Linked DNA regions of Homo sapiens: all the other regions are linked to region 1. The links come from fine-mapping of genetic effects on gene expression. A gene starts in region 1. Each other region holds a variant in brackets. All regions are shown on one strand. Distances are from middle to middle.

Region 1 (5,156 bases):
TTCTGCTTGTCATTCCTTGTATTCAATTTATACTAATAGATACTTTTCATGAACATCCACTGAATTCTTTCATTCCTTCCATCAGATATTTAATCAACTCTGTGTTCCAGGTATTATGATGGAGCCTGGAGACAAACTACAAAACATGACAGATAATGCAGGAAGGAGCATGAAGTAAGTACTAAGGTGGCACCTACCTTGGGAGAAGTGGATAAAGAACTCAGGAGATGTGAAAAGGAGGAACATGAGAGGGGATCCTTTAAGGATAAGTGAAATCATCACAATTTTGTTTCCTAATGATGAAACTTATGTTGAAAATACTCCATTAAAATTCAACTACTAAAATCTTGTAACCACAAACACAAACGCAAAAACAAAAAACTATCATGATCATAATTATGATCATGTAAGCTAAAAAATTCGAGTGCAGACATAAAAGTTTTCACCTGAGATATTCACTTTATGTAAATACCACTCATCAGTTATAGCCAGAAGGTATTTGCTTCCATCCAGTTTGGGTGTAAGCGTAGAGTTAAGTCTATAATTATTTATTTGATGCCAAGTAGAAATACGACAATATACAAGGTTCAAATGTGGGAGAAGTTACAAGCAAGTCCTTGGAGAGTCAGTGAGATGTTTATGAAGAAAGAGTCATATACTGAACTTCAAAAACGAGTTGGACCTTGCACACTCAATTTTCCCTTAGCTATAACGTTTATACAAAAAGTTTTTGTGTAAACGTTATAGCTACTAAAAATCAGAACAAGTTCAATTATCACCAACTCAAAGCTGGATTAGACCTTTTCAATGATTATTAAGCTACACATCCATATTTAACAGCTAGTCTTTAGAGGAAGGGACCATCTCATTCTATTAACAGTGAGTATTGAGTAAGGCCTTCAGATGCCTAACTGCATATATTTGAATACATTTTTAAAATTTCTTAACACATATCGCTAAGGTTACTTTGTTTATATGACATTATGAGTACGGGACAACAAAACTCTTAAGCCGTTAAACAGAAAGCCAAATCAAGCTGCATCTATGACATGCCTGTTTAGTGAAACTTTACTTCAGTCCATAAAAATACAATTTATTAAAAGCACAAAACTAGTGGCTAGCTTCAAGTTAACATTTTTGTTGCTAGTGGTGAGATTTCCTCTAATGTTAAATGATTTTTTTTAAAAAAATACGTTTTAAGTCCAGACAAAATTAATTTTCAAAAATGAAAATTGTAATCTATCCACAAATGTAAGTTTTACCGTTTTGTTTTTTGCAAAAAAAAGTACCTTTTATCTTTCCTTATATTTGAGGAAACAAGCTTATCTTTGAAGAAGTAGCTGCTGAATTTGCAAGATCTTTTGAGTACTTCTAACTACACGCTTTATTACTACACAGTTAAATATTTAAACAACAGTTGTCTCCTTTGTCTAAAGACCCACAAAGACCGAGAAGGTACTTACCTTCTTGAGATGACCAAATCCAAACCTAGAACTCCTCCAGAGGTACAGCCTTGGTGGGAGATTCTGAAGACGCCAGTCTGGCTTCTATCCCTAGCCGCAGGAACCTGCATCTTTTACTTAGTCCAGAAAGGCTTAGTATATTAGTAACCCAAAGATAGTGAGGGCATTTAAACTGTGTATTTCATTCTCTACTCACGTTTGCATTTTGGTTTTTTGTTTGTTTGTTTGTTTGTTTTAAAGAGGTTGGGCCTCACTACCTGGAGACACTGTCCCACCAGTTTGGCCGCCGCGCCAAGCCGGTGGCTCAGCCCGCTGTCATCCAGGTTCTCACGACTCCTCCCATTGCTTGACAGCCAGCCAATAGCGTGCTAGGACTCTAGGACGCGCGATGGCGTAAGCTCCAACGCCCGCGTGATGACGCAAGAGGCGCCACCGTCTCCAAGGAGTGGTCCGGGGCACCGGTTTCAAAGTCGCAGGGCGGGCCGAGTGGACTTCCGCTGCTGGCCTGGGGCTTCCCAGCCGTCTTGGCGTTGTCCTCTCCAACCCCCGCCGCTCCGCGTAGAACGCCGCTCTCAGGCTGCCGTCAAGCTCCCGCGGCACTCTCCTAGGTGGCCCGACGAGACCCAGAGTGACCCGCGGGACGCCTGTATCGACCGCGTCCTCTTCCCACCAGCGTGGGATTCGGTTGAACGTGGAGTCCCCAGCAATCTTCAGTCTCTCACCAGGGCCAGGGACTCGTCTGGGGCGCGGGGGAAAGAAGCGTGGCGGGGCTGTAGATGCCGCGTGAGTAGGATGCAGATTGCACCGCTGGAGCGCTTGACAACCAACCGAGCGTTGGCTTAGTTTTGTTTTCCCGCACAGCAAGCTCTCTGTCTTTCAGAGGAAGGTAAAGGTGGTGAAAGCTCTAAACTAAAATTGTATCGAAATGGCTGCAGAAATCGACTTTCTGAGAGAGCAAAGTAAGCTCCATGTTTTTTTGAGACTTCATATACAATGTTTAATATCGTCGTCGTTGACCGACAAATCTTTTTTGAATGCTGGTTGGGTACATTTAAATTGGTAAAGAGTTAAAGAAGTTAGTTGCAGGAAAAAAAAAACCTTGATGTTATACGTGAGGATGTGTGTATATTTAAGCAGAACCGTGTGGTAGTACTTGTAGCTTACACAGAATTCTACTAGACGCTAAACATGTTTGTTATGCTCCTCTCGTGCTCTGAAGATTAGAAGGCTAATGGCCAGCAGGAGTTTCCAAGTGTGCATTTAAAATCTAGGGGCACAGCTCTCTGGCCATTTATTAAAAAGATGTTTATTGAACTCCTGTTTCTATTATGTACCAGACACTATGGAAGAACAGCTGCTGCAAAGATAAACAGGACAGTTTTTACCTCCAAGAATTTAATTTGGGGAGGGAAATGTATTCCAAAATATATTGAAGTGACAGCAACTGCTGGCTCTTTTGCCACAGTCTCATAGGGTTGTTGGAAAGATTAAATGAATATTAAAATATGTAAAGGATTTAGAATAGTATCTGATACATTGTGTTAAACAAATATTAACTATTACACGATTATTATTAAAATATGTTCAAGGAAGGTGCTATTGGGCTGAAACGTGCAGTACAAATATGAATTTACTATATGAAAAACTCTAGGCATCCCAAATAGAACAATATTTGTGACACTGAGGGGATTAGGAATATGCTTTGTTAAAGACTTGCAATACGGCTGGTTTGAGTGTAATATTGATGTAAATTGAATTGGAATATTTATATAGGGAAATGGCAAGTGCAGTTGAAGGCGTAGAAAGGGGCTGGATGGTGAAGGGCCCTGTCTTCTCTGTGCTAAGGAGTATGGACCATTGCATGGGTTATAGGAATTCAGTTGAGAGTGGCATGATCAAATTGTAGTTTAGAAGGCCCGGTCTGATTTTTACGGGGAATATGCATTATAGCAGAGTGCAGTTAGTTGTCTACTGTCATCATTCAGGTAAGAAGTAAACTAAGTTGGGCACAGGGAGACTGGAGATCAGGGGATTTGAGAGAAAGAGGTAGAGAGCAACTTAGTTTTTGCTTGAGCAACGGGGAAGTTAGGAAAAAGGTAGTAAGTTCCGTTTTGGTAGCATTATAGACCAGTGGTTAAGAACTCAGTCAGCCTCTGGATTTAGTCTGTCTGGGCTCACAGCCTACCTCTTTCCAGGTCTGTGACCTCGAGCAAGTTTCCTAGCTTTTCTGCACCTCAGTTTTCTCATTTATATAATGAGTATAAGAACACAAGAATCCTCTTGAAGTTGTGAGACTTAAATGAGATGATGAAAAAGCATTGAGCATAGTGTCTGGCACATATTAAGTGCATGGTATATGTTATCTAAAATAATTAATGACACTATAATGACACAATAACATTAGCATTATTTCTTAGGTTTGCAGTGGGAATATCCCCACCCCATAAGAACAGCTAACTGGCCACCGTAAGAGTAGTGTGGGACAGGAATTGGTTGATGAGGAGTTTGGCTAGAGTCAGGATAGTACTTGAGGTGGTCAGAAACTATTAATTTTATAAGAATGATCCAGCCAGAATTCTTAGATAAAACTGAGATCCAAATACCAGGGGAAAACAAATAAGACAACTGAAGCATAGTAACATTTTTTTAAAAATGAGTGGTATTTAATAGTTCCATGGAAGACAAGTGGAGTGCAAGAAGGAAATCTCAAGCAGAAGGAGCAGAAGAAGGAATGGTTCAAAGGCTTAAAATAACTGATTTTATTCAGGAAATCGGAGCATAGAATGGTAGCGTTTGCATGAAGAGATAAGAATGAGAGTTGAGTGTCTGTGTCGCTCTCCTTTTTTCTTTAACCGGATTTTGCATGCCATTTGAAGGTGGTGGGTTATTCCATTAAGTGACCCACCTAAATACCAGCCCAGATAAAGATAGATCACTTGCCTTCTTTCCACCTGCCTCTGACTTTTTCTACACTGATTTCTGTTGATCTTGATTGTCTCTTTGTTCCGTTTGGATTTGGGAGCCCAGGTCAAGACCATTTGTTTTGGTACTTCTCAACTCATGTTTTGGTACTTCTCAACTCATGTTTGGTACTTCTCAACTCTCATGTCCCCACATGACATTTCCTCTGATAATTACTATTTCAGCTTTACATATCATAACGACAGGCAGCTCCACACTCAACCAGGCTACTAGTAGAGTAAGCTTGTAGCATATTTGCTGTGCACCGTTCTTCCACCTTTGTCTGGGAAAGATCAGTTAGTTTTTAGGAACCTGTTCAAAGAGGTACTTGCATTATCAATCTAAGGAACTAAGAATTCATTCATTAGTGGGGTGTGAGACTCACTGGCAGAGTGGTGATGGACTTATTTTTTCTTTTCATTCTCTTAATAGTGTTGGAGCCAAACATTTTTAATTTTGATGAAATTTAATTCATCAATTTGTTCTTTTATGAATTGTGTTTTTGGTGTCATAAAAGAAATCATTGCCTAACCCAAGGCTGCAAAGATTTCTTCTATATTTTCTTCTAGGAGTTTTATAGTTTTAGGTTTTACATTTAGATCTATGGTTCATACAGTTAAATTTTATACAAGGGATGAGGTAAGGATCCAGGCCACTTTCTTGCATTGGATGCCCAAATGGAAAAACTACCCTTTCTCCATTGAATTACCTTTGCTCCTTTGCAGTTGTTTA
Region 2 (5,156 bases), 180 kb after region 1:
TTATACCTTGCAATTTAAAATGTCTAATACTTCAGTCTGCAGATGTATACAAATGGATCCAGAAACAAAAGCAGATCCCTTAAAACTCAGTTTAATTTATATGACAACTGAGTGACCATTCTTCTCCAAGCATTCTGCTAAATGCTAGAAACACAAGATGAATAAGGCTTTGCCACTAAGAACTTATTCTGTCCCATTGCCTATCTTTGTTTCTCCTAGCATTCATCACTGTCAGTAATTATGTTTTATACTTGTTTCATTACATGTTTTAAAACAGTCTGTCTTTCCTATGGGACTATCAGCTCCATAAAGTTTGTTTTATTCCTCACTGTATCCCTAGCTCTTAAAAGAGTGTCCAGCACTAGTAGATATCCAGAACATATTTGTTGAATGAATGAATGAATGAATGAATGAAAGCTAGTGAATTTTATCAATTATTGTTTCTTTTCTAGGCCAAACTCTTCTTCCAGTTTTGATCCTTTCTGGTCAAAGTAGAATTTCAGCTTTTTGAAATGCATTTGAACTTTTAAAACATGATATAATGTGCCCCCAGTATTTAACAGACCTAAGAAACTTGAATTCCCATAATTGTACCACTGCTGTATAATGAAACTTGTTTCTCATCTTACAAACTTGAAAATGCTATTGATTCTAAGAATTATTATGAAGACTGTTGATAATAAAGGAATACATAGTCCTGAACATAAGCACTAGGATTAATTGGGTGAAATAGTTTTTAAAAATCAGTATTGCTAATAATTAAGGTCATACTTCCAGAGGAGAAATATTGCACAAAACATTGCAGCTAGGATTATTCAATTTTTTGAACTCCTATTCTGAAATCTAGAAAAGTACACGTTGGCCGTATAACACAGACCTCTGTGAACTGGGCATGTATGTCCACAGGCACCAGACCACTAGAAATTATTGGCAGAGTATGTTGAATCGGTATCTATATATGAACATAACTATTTGGTTAAGCATAACAGTCTATAGTATAGTGTTGGGCACTTGATAATGATTCTTTAAATGTTTACAGGTAATTTATTTAAGAATTATTGAAATGTGATTTTTAAAGGAGTGTGCTAGCCAGCAGTGCAACACCAAAGAAGAATCCTTTCAACTTGAATTCTAGTATGCCGTGCCCCTTTATGAGCAAGCAGAGTAGCCCATATATGACTAACTTAAAGGAGTTTACTAGAATGAGTTGTGTCAAAAAACCTCATCAATCTTGCTACTTGTTATCACACCATCATAGCTTAATTCATTTGAATACTGAAAATTATTTGTTTGTGTGGGCTTTTTGGCATTGATTTTAACTAAAATTCAAATACTGTAGAAGAAACTATAGTTTCCAATAACCATGATCTTGAAAACAACCTAAATGTGGTCCATAGAATGACCTAAATGTGGTCCATAGATTGCTCCTCTTTCTGTATCCCCTTTGTGCACCTCTATAGTCAGCTTTCAGATATGTTTGATTATTTCTCTTCTTTCTCCTTAATGTTTTCAAATCCATTTGCCTTCATCCCCGCTACTCCTATATTAGATCAGATCACCATCATCTCTGACCTCTCTTACAAACTCTTCATTTATCCCTGGACTGCTGCAACAGCTTTTAGATCTGGTTTCACATGTATGTCCAATCTCATTTCTCATCACTTCCTATTTTTTATTACTCTATTTAAGATTTTAGAGAAACATCTATCACATTAAGGATTTTTTATTACAATAAAAGATAATATTACTAGTTTCTTTTTTTTTTTGAGACGGAGTTTCGCTCTTTCGCCCAGGCTGGAGTGTAGTGGCTATCTCGGTTCACTACAATCTCCACCTCCTGGGTTCATGCCATTCTCTTGCCTCAGCCTCCAGAGTAGCTGAGACTACAGGCGCCAGCCACCATGCCCAGCTAATTTTTTTGTATTTTTAGTAGAGACGGGGTTTCACCGTGTTAGCCAGGATGGTCTCAATCTCCTAACCTCATGATCCACCTGCCTCGGCCTCCCAAAGTGCTGGGATTACAGGCGTGAGCCACCGCGCCCGGCAATATTACTAGTTTTAAAGATCAAAATGATATCCAAATCGCCCAGTGCTTTAGAAATAGCTGCTAAGTAGTAAGCCAGCTAGTCACTTCTCTTTGTGGGCAGTGGTGAGGAGCGGGTGAGTACCAGTACTCTGATACCTGCTTTGCTGTTATCCAGCAAAGACTCATACCTTTTAAAAGACAATACCAGTGAACAAAACAGGCAAAAATCCCTGCCCTCATGGAGCTTTCATTCTAATAGGGGAGACAAACATTAATTGGTCTCAAATTAAACAAGAGAAATTAAATATGTGATAGATGGTGAGTGCTAAAGAGAAAAATAAACAGAAAAAGCCAATAGGCACTGTATGTATTTTTGAGAGCGCCCCATTTTAGAAGAGGTCAGCAGAGATAATCATCCTCCACTCTCCTGCCCTTCTTTCTCTTCTTCCTTGGCCAACCACAGCCCTGTTTAAATATAACTCGTCTTCTCTGTAGCTTTACTCATTCAGCTCAAGGTGGCTGGAAAAAACACACACAGCCATTCTGGGTTGTCTCACTTTAAATTCATGACCACAAAAGGGACCTTTAGTGCTGCAAGACAATCATTTTATATATTCTACTCTCTTTGGTGACTATTTCATACCCTTTATTCTGTCCTCAAATCTTTTTGCAACTCCTCCCCCATCATCCCTTTTAGGCAATAACTTCAATTCCTGTTTCACTGAGAAAAGAGAAGCAATCAGAAGAGAACTTCTGCAGTTTCCCACACTGCAGTTATATTTTCCCATGCCTGTGTTTCCTGTCAACTTGGCTGTAATGCTCCAGTGTAAGAACAAACTCTTCATTTGTCCCTAGATTTT[A/G]TTTTTGTTTTGCTGTAGTGCCTCCTTGTTAGATGTTCAGTTAAATACAAAGAATTGTTTTAAAAAACAATTTTCCACAACAACAGAATGCCGAACGTAGCAACATGAAATGGTTAACTACCCTGAGAGAAACAAATAGAAATAATTCATGGAATAAGCAATTTGAAGCAAACCAACAAACCTTCTAAAGAAAATTCCTACTTAAGTGAAATCTTGGCTTTTAAATTTATTTGAACTTTCTGCCAGCACTGGCCAGATATGCTCAGCAAATCACATTTGGTAACAAAGCCCTGCCTAGCCTAAATAGTCAAGATTGCAGTTTATATCTTGACCAGTGGTATATGTGAATCCAGTAAATCCAGTAAATATCACTAGGATTTTTGCCATCTTTTTTTCTTTCTGTTTCAAAGCTTACCTCCTTTTCTGCCCAGCCTTAAAAACCAAGTCTTGGTAAAGGACAACACATTGAGACCCTGTCTCTATTTATATATATATACAAAGAAAAAGGAGGAGGAGGGCGAAGAGGAGGAGGGGAAGAGGAGGAGGGGAAGGAGGAGGAGGAAGAGTAGGAGAGAAAAGCCCATGTACTTACTTTTACTTGCACAAAAAGATTACTAGTTCTAGAAGGCAGTAGATTTTAGGCAAGATTTATATATATGAATTGTATCCCTCCTTTTTGGAGAACATAAATAATACTGAAGATTATGCATGAAATCAATAAAATGTATCTACTGAAGTATTTTCACTGACCTATCTTACCTATTGGTCATAATACAAAATTCTATGACAGTCATAATAGATTTATAATTTTCAAGTTAAAAAATTTATTTTTAATTTTAATGAAAAAATACGTTACAAAGGTGATAATCTACCCTTGACATACAATAGCATCCATATTGAGCATCAGTAAAGTACCAGACTAACTGCTAGATGGTACTTCCATATCTCTGGGGAAGAATTCATTTGTTCTCCTTAGAAGTGTTTTTGTTTTTAGTGATTCAATGGTATAGTCCAAGTCTTGAACCAATTAGGTCTTTAATTAATAATAAATTGCAAAATAAACTACAGAGCATTTTAAAAGTAAATGGCTTGTTTGATGCATTTGACTCTCCGTGTAATGATGTCTCTATATATACCACAGCATTATATATTCTAGCATTCATATCAAAAGTGTTATTACTCGCTTTCAAAAGTGAGCCTTTTCAGGTTAGGGCTCAGCATCCTGCTTCTCTGTGTGCATTATTGTGATGTATTAAGCATCAAAGCTTTCCCCCTGAAAATATGCCTTTTAAAAAGTGCTAGCATTCCTTGGTCTCTAAATTAGTTGTATGCATTGAATCTTGAAAGTACTTGGCTGTTTGCCTCTGTCCTCTCTACTTCATAAGAATTGAATTCTTTTAAGTTGCTATTTTCTTGCTTGCTTTTGTCCACCTATTTGCTACAGTTAGGAGAATATTAGAGGCAAAACCAAATATAAGTATAGTCATGATATACGTAGTCCTCCCTTGACTTGCTTTATTCCCCGTGGAAACTTCTATACCTTTTCGCAACTGACAATTAAATATGATTACCAGTACCTGTGATTTTTAAAATTATCTACCCATAAGTAACTATGGTCAAAACTAAATGTAACACCAAATAATTAAATAAAATAATTTTTTCATAGGTAATTTTTCATCTTAGTATCGGAGAACTTAGGATCAGAAGCTTTTTAAAAATTTGAGTTTCTGTATGGTATCTTTTGGTTTGAAGTTTAATTTGTAATATCTTATTAATTCCTCTATAATTATCCCCTCTTAGCTACTACTACTTTATCTTGCAATGTATGTATCACAAAGAATTTTGAGCTTCAAAGAAGAAGCTGTTTTACTAGTTAACTTATTAGTGTATAGTATCTGTAACTGCAGTATATATGTACTAATCTTACTTAAATGAGAGATTGTTGTTATTTTATTTACCTATTTATTATATTTTTTTGAGACGGAGTTTCATTCTTATTGCCCAGGCTAGAGTGCAATGGCACAACCTTGGCTCACTGCAACCTCCGCCTCCCAGATTCAAGCGATTCTCCTGCCTTAGCCTCCCGAGTAGCTGGGATTACAGGCTCCTGCCACCAGACCCAGCTAATTTTTTTGTATTTTTACTAGAGATGGAGTTTCACCATGTTTGCCAGGCTGGTCTCGAACTCCTGACCTCAGGTGATCTACCCACCTTGGCCTTCCAAAGTGCTGGGATTACAGGCGTGAGCCACCGCACCTGGCCTGTTGTTA
Region 3 (5,156 bases), 140 kb after region 1:
GAAGGAGCCTTTCTAACTTGATGAGATTTCTATATTATTGGATGAGAAAAGCAAGTACAGAAAAGGGTGTATACTATGATTTTTATTGTTATAACAAAAGTTTAAAAAGCTCCTGTCATTACCTGTATGTATAATATGTGTGTATATTTATGTGTATATGTGTATGAGTATATATATATATGTACATATGATCATATGAATATTGAGAAAATTATTTTAAGATATACATTAGTAAGTTAACATAGCTTGTCTGGGTAGAGAGTATGAAAGGAGAGAAAAGAGAAAAGACCATATAAATGTAAAGAACAACTCATTTCTTAAGGGTTTGCTTTATATCATTGTCATGTAACTATATAATACAGTGTGATACCATAACAAGTATAACATAATTAGGATCAGAAAATCCAGGCTTAGTCTCAGCCCCACTGCTCATTAGCGCTATGATCTTAATCAAATGCCTAACCTCTCTGGGTATGTTTGTTGTTCTTTAAAATGAAGGTATGGAGATAGTAAAACCTACTTTATAGAAGGGTAATGAGTATCAAATGAGAAAATATTAATACATGTGAAAGTTACTGGCATAATACCTGTCCTGTAGTAGATGCTCAGTAAATCTCCCTCCTTCCCTTTAAAAAAGTTTAACTTTCCCAGTGTAATTATTGATTTCTAGATTATGTGTGACAATCCAAGAAGCCAACCAATTAAGAACCGAAAATACACATCTGGAAAAACAGACCAGAGAGCTACAAGCAAAGTGCAATGAATTAGAAAATGAGAGATATGAGGCTATTGTAAGAGCCAGAAATAGCATGCAACTCTTAGAAGAAGCTAACCTTCAAAAAAGTCAGGTAAGAAAGCTAGTAAATATGTTTAGATATAATAAAATGTTGACTATTCTCCCATGTGACCTCACAGTAAGGGATTCAATAGCTGTTGAATAAATGCATGAAAATGAAATTGCTACTCTTTTCATTAGTAATCATCCATATTCTTGGATGGTAAAACCAGATATCATCATATGATAAAACATCAATTCTTTTCTAAAATAATGTATAAATATCAGACTTTCTTATTCTCCCAGATGCTGCGTAACTAATCTTCATCCCCTGTAGTCTCATACTTAAAAAAAAAAAACTGTTAACAGTGCTTTACTTCAGTATACCCTATATTTTATTCAGTTGAATCTGATAAATCTTACCCGTCTCTATTCCCCTTCATCATATACTCAATTACTTTATTAAAGCGGAAGCTTAATTAGCTTTAAAGATTTATTTACTGAAGGCTTCATGTCACTGTTCTTTTTTAATTCTCTAACAATTGTGATTCCTGTGCTGTCAAATACAGTGTTCCTTGTCATATACTGCTTCCCTATGAATGATACATTTAAGTTTATTGAAGTCACAAAACAAATGTTTTAATGTTTATTTTGCGGCCTCCCTTATGTAGAGTTCATTAAATCATTAATTTATTTACCAACATTCATCGAATGCCTAGTATATGCAGAATACGGGTACAAAGGAAATGCTTTGTTTTATTTTTATTTCCCTTTTTACAGAGGATTTTTCAAGAGAGCTCTAAAACAGAATATAGTGTAAGTTGGATATTGAGAAGCTCATAAATAAAAAAAGAATTAATTATCTAAATCCTAACTGTGGGGATGCTAAGGTGTTTATCATGCCTTTCAACTAATATTTTCATCTGTGATCTGAATACTGTCTTTTAGAATGGTTAAGAGGAACACAATAGACATAATATGCTTGGGAATTGTGTCGAATACCTAAATCAGCTGGAAAAATTAAGGTCAAGAAAAAATTTTTATCTCTACCCTCTGAAGCCTACTTGTATGAGCACTCTTATACCAAGCCATTAAAAATAAACATCTTGTGTAGAGCACAGTGGACAGAGAAAATAGTAGGAACACTCATTGCCCATCCTCCTCCCAAATCTTCTCACTCAAATCTTAAGTCAACAGACGCTCACAGAGGCTGTCTATGGTTACAATATTAAGCTGCTCTTTGACTCATTGCTTAATTGCTAGAGGGTTCCCATCTTCAGTTGCTTGTTCAAAGTCAAAGGTTCTCCCAGCCGATCACACAAACAAGGCAGGAAGTACAGCCTAGCATAGTTCCCCTTCTCCCCCTCAAGGTTATTACATAAGAACA[G/C]CTGTTACTTCTCACTAGCTTACTTGTTTAAGGTGGAGGAATTTTATCTTAAAAAACAATTTTTACAAAAACAGAGGTAAAAATGTGTATGGTACCTTTGGAAGATGGTGGGAACAGAACACAGGGCCATTTACATGTTGATTTAAAATGGATTCAATTTGGCCTAATTGAAGAAGTTCCAAGCCCAGAAAAAGGTTTGTGTTAGAGATGTAAATATGGGGATTGTCAGCATATAAATGATATTTAAAACTGTGAGATTTGATTAGACCACTAAGAGAAGGACAGATAGAGAGGGGGACAAGAAGTGAACCTTGGGTAGTCCAGTATTAAGAGGTTCAGGAGATGAGGAAGAATCAGCAATGTAGACTGAAGAGGAATGATCAGTGAGATAGGAGGAAAACCGGTACTGTGTGTGATGTGCTGAAAATCACATGCAGAAAGTACAACAAGGAGAGGAAAGTAAATATTTCAAGTGCTGCTGGTAAAGAAGTACTGAAAATTTACTTATAGATAATCAATATGGAGATCATGGTGGTGAAAGCCTGATTCAAGGGAGTATAAAAGAGATTGAGAGGAAAAGTCTTGGAGATGAACAAGTTACAGAGTTTTGCTTCTCAGAGAAGCAAGGAAATGGACTGTGACTGACAGCAGAGCTAGGATTATGGCAATATTTATTTGGTGGAGGATGGAAATGATTGGAATTATAGAAATACATCAAAGAGACAAAACAAGTAGTGTCTGCAATGATCAAATTATGAGTTAATGAGTGACATAATTTGAATAATACTAAATAATGGAAAGAGAGAGAAATTCAAGAGATTCTTATAAGGATACAATACCTAGATTTGATTATTTACTTTATATAGGGACTTGAAAAAATGGAAAATTCAACAATGGTTTTAAGATTTCTGGCTGTAGAGATTAGAAGGGTGTTAGAAACACTGGCTGAAATAAATACCATAGAGAAAGTGTCTTTAGTTAGGACAAGGGCAGGTGAGGAGGTTAGGGAAAATAAATATCATTCGTGATTTCAACATGATATTCAAGTAGAGATGTCCCAGAAGTTTTGAATAAGGAAGTGACTAGTGGATAGGTTTTCACCTGTTATTATCTTTACTAATAATAATGTTATCTATAACATGAAATGATTATTTTCTGAAGGCTCTACTTGAGGAGAAGCAAAAAGAAGAAGACATAGAGAAAATGAAAGAGACAGTTTCTCGGTTTGTACAAGATGCTACCATAAGAACCAAGAAAGAAGTAAGGATTTTTAATTATATTTAAAATTCAGAATTTAAGTCACAACTAAAGACTAAATTCTACCTAAATATTTGTAAATTAAAATTAAAATACTTGCCTACATAGTTATAAAGACTCCATATGAAATTATTAACCTAAGTGTTTAAAAACTAACTAAAGGAACTGAGTAAAGGCTCCTTTCCTTTAAAATTATCTCCAGTAGGATAGTGGGATATACTGTATAGCCCTCCACTGGATAAAATAAAGATGTTCCTTTTTTTTCTTTATCTGTATTTTTTGTGGGCAATATTATTTCTCTCCTAGGTGAACTGTAGATTTAAACTGGTTTTCAAAACTTCCATCAGTTTAGAAAAAATAAAGTTAAAATGTTTGCTTTCTCCCAAGCAACTAAGTGGTAGAATTTTTATTTCCATAAAGCCACTGTACAACATTTCTTCCTGCAGAAGTATTTCTTAGAAATCTATTACTTTTACAGAATCATGGTGTAAAGAAAAAAATCTATTACTTTGTCTTATATGACTGAAATTAGATAGTTTCCCAAGATAAAATTTTTAATTTAAGGCAGAGTCCAAAGTAAACCCTGGGCTTTTTAATTTGTCATCTTCTATATCCTTTCTGCAGGAGCTCTGTCTTTCCTATTTGTGAAGTTGAGAGTACTGTAACATTGGACTATAGCCTAAAATATTCTTGATGACATATTTTTAAAATAAATATTAATAAACTTTATACTTTTAATGATAAAAATATTTTATTAAAGTATTCTTGGTATGAGCATTCCTCTAATTGTATTTTCTTATCCTAAAATAAATTCAAATTGATTTTGAGGTTGATGAAGGTCATCTTTTGCATGAAGCTTTAAATAATCTAAGTAGAATTTTTCAAAAGCATTGTGATCTCATTCATTCCAAATGTTTTGCAAACGGAAAATACAGATGCTTCCTAAAATCCAATTATTTCCCTATTCAAATATGTAGTCCTACCAGGCATCTGAAACTCAACATGTCTGAAACTGAACTTACTCTCATAGTCAGTCCCAGATTGTTCCTTCCTTAGGTGTTCCTGTTGATTTCCTGTAGCCAGCCTTTCCCTGCCATTACAGCTATTCACTCAGGAAGTATTTATTGAGCACTTCCTGTGTGCCAAGCATTTTGCTGCGTCTTTGCCCCCTCTGAGTTCCACACTGTTGCCAAGTTGATTTTTTTAAGTAAACTTTTAAAATTATTATTAAAAGTGATATATACTCATTGTAAAAAGAAATGGAAAATATGTATGAGAAAATATGTATAAATGAAAAATATGTATAAAAGAAAATTAAAATTACAAGTTTAATACCCAGAGATAGCACTATTTTTAGCATTGTTCTGTGAATTTCATTTAATCCCAAATTATTCACGGCATGTCCTTCAAATATGTAGAATTAACCTGTTGAATTGAGAATAACTTTACATGTATCTCTTCCTATTGACTAAAGTAAATATAATGAATAAATTGTCACATATTTCTGTTCTGGCTATAAAATTGAACAAAAATATGACGTGGCTTATTTCTTTAAAATATGAAAATACTTTATTTCTTAGATATCTCTCAAATAATTAAAATTTGTAAAAAATATACATTGTTCACTTTTGATTTTAAATCATGGCTGGTGCCATTATTGGATTTTCCTATTTCTTAATAGTTTATCTTACTATTTGGTTTATAAATGTCCTTACTATTCATAAAATTATAGAGGAA
Region 4 (5,156 bases), 120 kb after region 1:
TGATTTAGATTGTAGATATACTCCTGAAATTATCTCTCAGCCTGACGCAGAGATTTTACATGAATAATGTGGTTTTTATTTTGTCCTTAGGGAATCATTTTGCAAATGAAAAAAACCTATTTTTGTTTGATTTTTTTTTTTTCTTTGAGATGGAGTCTTGCTCTGTCACCTGGCTGGAGTGCAGTGGCACGATCTCGGCTCACTGCAACCTCTGCCTCCCAGGTTCAAGCGATTCTCCTGCCTCAGCCTCCCAAGTAGCTGGGACTACAGGCACGCGTGCCATCACACCCACCTAATTTTTGTATTTTTAGTAGAGATGGGGCTTCACTATGTTGGTCAGGATGGGCTCAATCTCTTGACCTTGTGATCCTCCCACCTCGGCCTCCCAAAGTGCTGGGATTACAGGCATGAGCCACCGCACCTGGCCTGTTTGATTTTTTTTATAATCTTGGTTAATTTAAAGCAAAACATTTTCTTAAATGCCTCATCATATAAAATATTATTAGGACCATGTGAGGGTAGGCAGTCTGTCATAGGGGACTCATTAAATACTAGTTTTATTACGTATTGTGAATCCTAGGGCATATTAGTAAACCTCTATCAACCTTGCTCTCCTCTACTTCAGTTTGATATAATAGTAGTATTAATTCACAGTTATTATCGAGTGTCAAGTGAGATGACTGCAAAGCATTTACAACAGTCCCTGGCACTAATAACTACCTGAGATATTATCAGCTATTATTAGATTTGTATTTTCTATTGTAGGAAATTTATAACTATATAAGTAATGCAGTTTTAAAGACAAAGAGTCAAAAGGAAATGAACTAACATTTACTTGTGAATTTTGCATCAAATAATTTCTGTAAGTTCTATAGCACAAATATGATTTACATTTAGATACATACATAAAATGTAATTAAGAAATAGGGAACAGTTCCTACACTACAGTATTTTTTTCTTGAAAATGTATGTTCTTTAGATAATCAAAGGGTTTTATACTCACTTAATGCTTAATTATGATGATATTAAAAATCATTTTTTCTGTTTAAGAAAGTCATATTATTGTTCTAAAATCATTTCCTATGAGGAGTTAAGAAGATATTGAAACTTATTTAATTCTGTTAGAATGTTCAAAAAAATTTATCTTTTTCATTTGTTGCCAATACAGTCTCTGAAGAAAATAAACATTGTATTATGGTGGAACAAATGTTTTAATTTATGTTGTGTTTACATAATACAAACTTCTGGTGTCTATGGAATGATCAAGGTATTGAAGTTTAAGTTCATTTTCATAGAAAGTCCAATCAGCAGTATATCTCCATCTCCATCTATAAAGATATTATAGACATAAGTATATTCTTCTTAGTGCACTGGAGCTCTTGTTAGGTAATGTATCAAGATGATAAAGTGCTTTTTCAAGAAACTTATTGAATCACTTTGGTATATAATATAATTTACCCAAGTACAGCATTCATGACCTCTACTTCATACCCTTCGCCATTCAGCTATATTTTTTCCTCTTTAATATCTTCTACATGCACTTCATTAGTAATAAAGGAATCTTCCAAAATTTATTCCATGGATCCATTTTAGATAAACAAGAGTTAGAACTGATTTTACCAAATTCAGATTTCTATTCTAATTTTTTATTCTTAGTGGTCTATGAAAACAGTGTTTATTAATTTACTTTATTTTTTAGGCAAGCCAAATTAGAGCTGAGAGTTGCTGTAGCAAAAGTGGAAGAGTTAACTAATGTGACTGAAGATCTGCAGGGACAGATGAAAAAGAAGGTATTTTCTATTTCTAAGACAAATGGGTACCTATTGCTTAGTTTTCTTTCTATTTTGTTGATTTATTTTGGATTAGGTGTTAAAGAGGGTTGTCAGAAGATGAATTAATTATTTTAATACCCTTAAAATATGAAAGTAGGAAGCTAAACTATATTATTGAAAACAACTTTATAAAGAATTTTTTATTTCCATTCTCTATAGCCTAATTCAATAGAACGTCATAATCACACCTAAGCACATCATTACTGAAACGCAAATTGATACAAGATCAAGTTTCAGTTAACTGGTTATTTGCAGGTGGAAAACAAGCATTTAATACTACTTTTATGTTATTTACTAAAGTATTTATTGACACAATAGACTCTGGTTCTTTTTAATATGTAATAGAGAAATTTCAGAAGGATGTCAAGGAAAAGTCAGGCTTTAGTTTTAGATAGATATAATTATTGAAAATTCTCACTCTGGGACTTATTAGCTATGTAACTTTCTAAGCCTTATTTCCAATCTGTAAAAAGTTGATTATAGATTTCTAATAATGGTAGATTTTCTAAGTGTTACAAGAACCCTCCCATAGGTAACAATTTTAAAACTTGGATAAATTTTTAAAACACCAGAAAGCACCCAAAACAGAAAGAAGTAAAAGAAATAAGAATTGTTAAATTTTGGATGTCTGGCCTGATGGTTCTCCCAACCCCCACAGCTGTGGCTTCAGAAAACACCTTTGTATGGGCTTAAGGTACCC[A/G]GGTCAAAGTTTAGGGCTAGAAAAGCAGTAGGAAATTTATTTTATTTTATTTTATTTTATTTTTGAGTCAGAGTCTCGCTGTGTCACCCAGGCTGGAGTGCAGTGGCTTGATCTCGGCTCACTGTCAGCTCTGCCTCCCGGGTTCATGCCGTCCTCCTGCCTCAGCCTCCCAAGTAGCTGGGACTACAGGTGCACGCCGCCACGCCTGGCTAATTTTTTGTATTTTTGGTAGAGACAGGGTTTCACCGTGTTAGCCAGGATGATCTCAGTTTCCTGACCTTGTGATCTGCCTGCCTCAGCCTCCCAAAGTGCTGGGATTACAGGTGTGAGCCACCGCGCCCGGCCAGCAATAGGAAATTTAAAGAAGAAATACTGGCAGCAAGAGAAACACACAGAAAAAGTGAGAGCCAAATTCTGAGTGTAAATTCTTACCAAATTCATGCCTGACAACTAAATTATGCATATGGAAGTGGGGGAGGGACCCCAGAGAGGCCAGTGAAGAAGCAGGCAGAGACCTAAGAGAAATTTACTTTTGAAAGATAGAGATGTATGGAACTAGATATTTGAGTTTGCTACTTTTTATAATTGAATACATGCGAGAAATGTGTGCAATTGAAGCATCAGCATACTGAAGACTTCCTTATTGTTTGAAGTATCAGAGGACAAAGCCCAAAGCTGGAAAGGCAGCTGGATATTACAGGGGAATCTGTAGAAGCGAGGGAACCACAAAGATGATGAGCCCTAACTCTGCCCAAATCTTGACTGATCTTCAAATTATGTAGGCACAGAGCCTAGTTATAAAAGCAACAGTGGAAAGCAGTAAGAACTAATTACAGATATCAGCTGCTACCTACTGTATGTGGAACAGATTTCAAATTTCAAGACCAAGCAAGATAATTGTCTACTTGAACTAAAAAAATAAAAATAAAAATTTAATGCTCAAAAGAACGAAACAGAGTAACTGCAATGTATTATCTACACTATTGAGTTTTCAAAAATTACTAGACAGAAAAGTATGACCTATACTTGTGGGGGAGGTGCTGAGGGAGGAAGCCATTAGAAACTGACTTTAAATGGATCGATCTGTTAGATTTAGCAGACAGAGACTTCAAGTCAGCTATTATATATATGTTCAAGGAATTAAAATCTGTTTTTAAATTAAAGTCTCTAGGAAGAGATAGATAATTTTAATTGAGAACTGGAACACAATTTTTAAAAAAGAAACTCTAGAGCTTTAAAGTTCAGCAACTGAAATAAAAATTTCACTAGATGGACTCAAAAATAGATTGGGAAAGACAGAAGAAATAATCAATGAACTTGAAGTCAGATCAATAGAAATTTCCCTGTCCAAAGAACAGAGAGTTTAAAAGATTGAAGAAAAATGAACAAGAGCTCAGAAATCTGTAGAACAATGTGAAGCAATGCAACATAAGTGTAATTGGAACTGCCAAAGGGAGGGGGATGGGAGCAGAAAAAAATTAAAGAAATAATGGCTGAAAACTTCCTAAATTTGGTGGAAAACATTAAAATTTAAGAATCTCAATGAGTAAACAAAATCACTTTGAGATACATCACAATGATACTGACAGCCAATTATGAAGAGAATACCTGAAAGTAGCAATAGAAAAATGACCTGAACAGAGAGGCAATGATAAGATTAATGGCTAAGTTCTCATCAAGAAACTGTGGAAACACTTCTGGACATAGGCCCTGGCAAAGATTTTATGTCAAAGACTCCAAAAGCAATTCCAACAAAAAGCAAAAATTGACAAGTGGGACCTAATTAAACTAAAGAGCTTCTGCATACCAAAGGAAACTATCAACAGAGTAAACAGACGACCTACAGAATGGGAAAAAATATTTGCAAACTGTGCATCTGACAAAGGTGTAATATCCAGCATCAATAAAGAACTTAAACAAATTTACAAGAGAAAAAAAAACATTAAAAAGTAGGCAGCGGACATAAACAGACACTTTTCAAAAGAAGATATACATGTGGCCAACAAGCAAATGAAAAAATGCTCAACACTATGAGTTAGAAAAATGCAAATCAAAATCGCAATGAGATACCATCTCACACCTGTCAGAATGGCTATCATTACAAAGTCAAAAAATTACAGATGCCGGCAATATTGCTGAGAAAAGGGAATGTTTATCCACTGCTGGTGGGAATGGAAACTAGTTCAGCCACTGTGGAAAGAGGTTTGGAGATTTCTCAAAGAACTCAAAACAGAAGTGCCATTCAACTGAGCAATCCCATTACTGGGTATATAACGAAGTAGTATAAATCATTCTACTATCAAGACACATGTCCATGTATGTTCATCACAGCACTATTCACAATAACAAGGAGATAGGATCAGCCTAGATGCCCATCAGCAGCAGACTGGATAAAGAAAATGTGGTACGTGTACACCATGGAATACTACACAGCCATAAAAAGAATGAAATCATGTCCTTTGCAGCAATATGGATGCAGTTGGAGGCCATTATCCTAAGCAAATTAACTCAGGAACGGAAAACCAAATACCGCATGTCCTCACTTACAAGTGGGAGCTAATCATTGAGTACAAATGGACGCTAAAGGGAACGATATACACTGGCCCTACTGGAGGGTAGGGGAT

Evidence for each region. PIP is the estimated chance that this variant, and not a neighbour inherited with it, causes the effect. A credible set is the group of variants that fine-mapping cannot tell apart.
Region 2: its variant is the best candidate, but not a certain one, in a credible set for the expression of SCLT1 in whole blood (TOPMed, PIP 0.84).
Region 3: its variant is the best candidate, but not a certain one, in a credible set for the expression of SCLT1 in whole blood (TOPMed, PIP 0.51).
Region 4: its variant is the best candidate, but not a certain one, in a credible set for the expression of SCLT1 in whole blood (TOPMed, PIP 0.71).

What each region holds. Positions count from the first base shown.
Region 1 is chr4:129,090,336-129,095,491 of GRCh38, reverse strand. It overlaps SCLT1 (sodium channel and clathrin linker 1), which reads left to right and starts at 1,953. Exons shown (of 21, transcript NM_144643.4): 1 at 1,953-2,422. The coding sequence starts at 2,389. It also overlaps a transcript of C4orf33 not described here. RefSeq lists an enhancer at 1,689-2,258.
Region 2 is chr4:128,910,974-128,916,129 of GRCh38, reverse strand. The region is part of intron 18 of SCLT1 (sodium channel and clathrin linker 1); the gene reads left to right. Among named protein-coding and RNA genes, the nearest start is that of JADE1, 100 kb to the right of the region's middle. RefSeq lists an enhancer at 2,630-2,809. The variant A/G (reference allele first, on the strand shown) is at 2,887.
Region 3 is chr4:128,955,292-128,960,447 of GRCh38, reverse strand. It overlaps SCLT1 (sodium channel and clathrin linker 1), which reads left to right. Exons shown (of 21, transcript NM_144643.4): 12 at 671-848; 13 at 3,324-3,422. Among named protein-coding and RNA genes, the nearest start is that of SCLT1, 140 kb to the left of the region's middle. The variant G/C (reference allele first, on the strand shown) is at 2,163.
Region 4 is chr4:128,967,012-128,972,167 of GRCh38, reverse strand. SCLT1 (sodium channel and clathrin linker 1) reads left to right here. Exons shown (of 21, transcript NM_144643.4): 10 at 1,700-1,790. Among named protein-coding and RNA genes, the nearest start is that of SCLT1, 120 kb to the left of the region's middle. The variant A/G (reference allele first, on the strand shown) is at 2,533.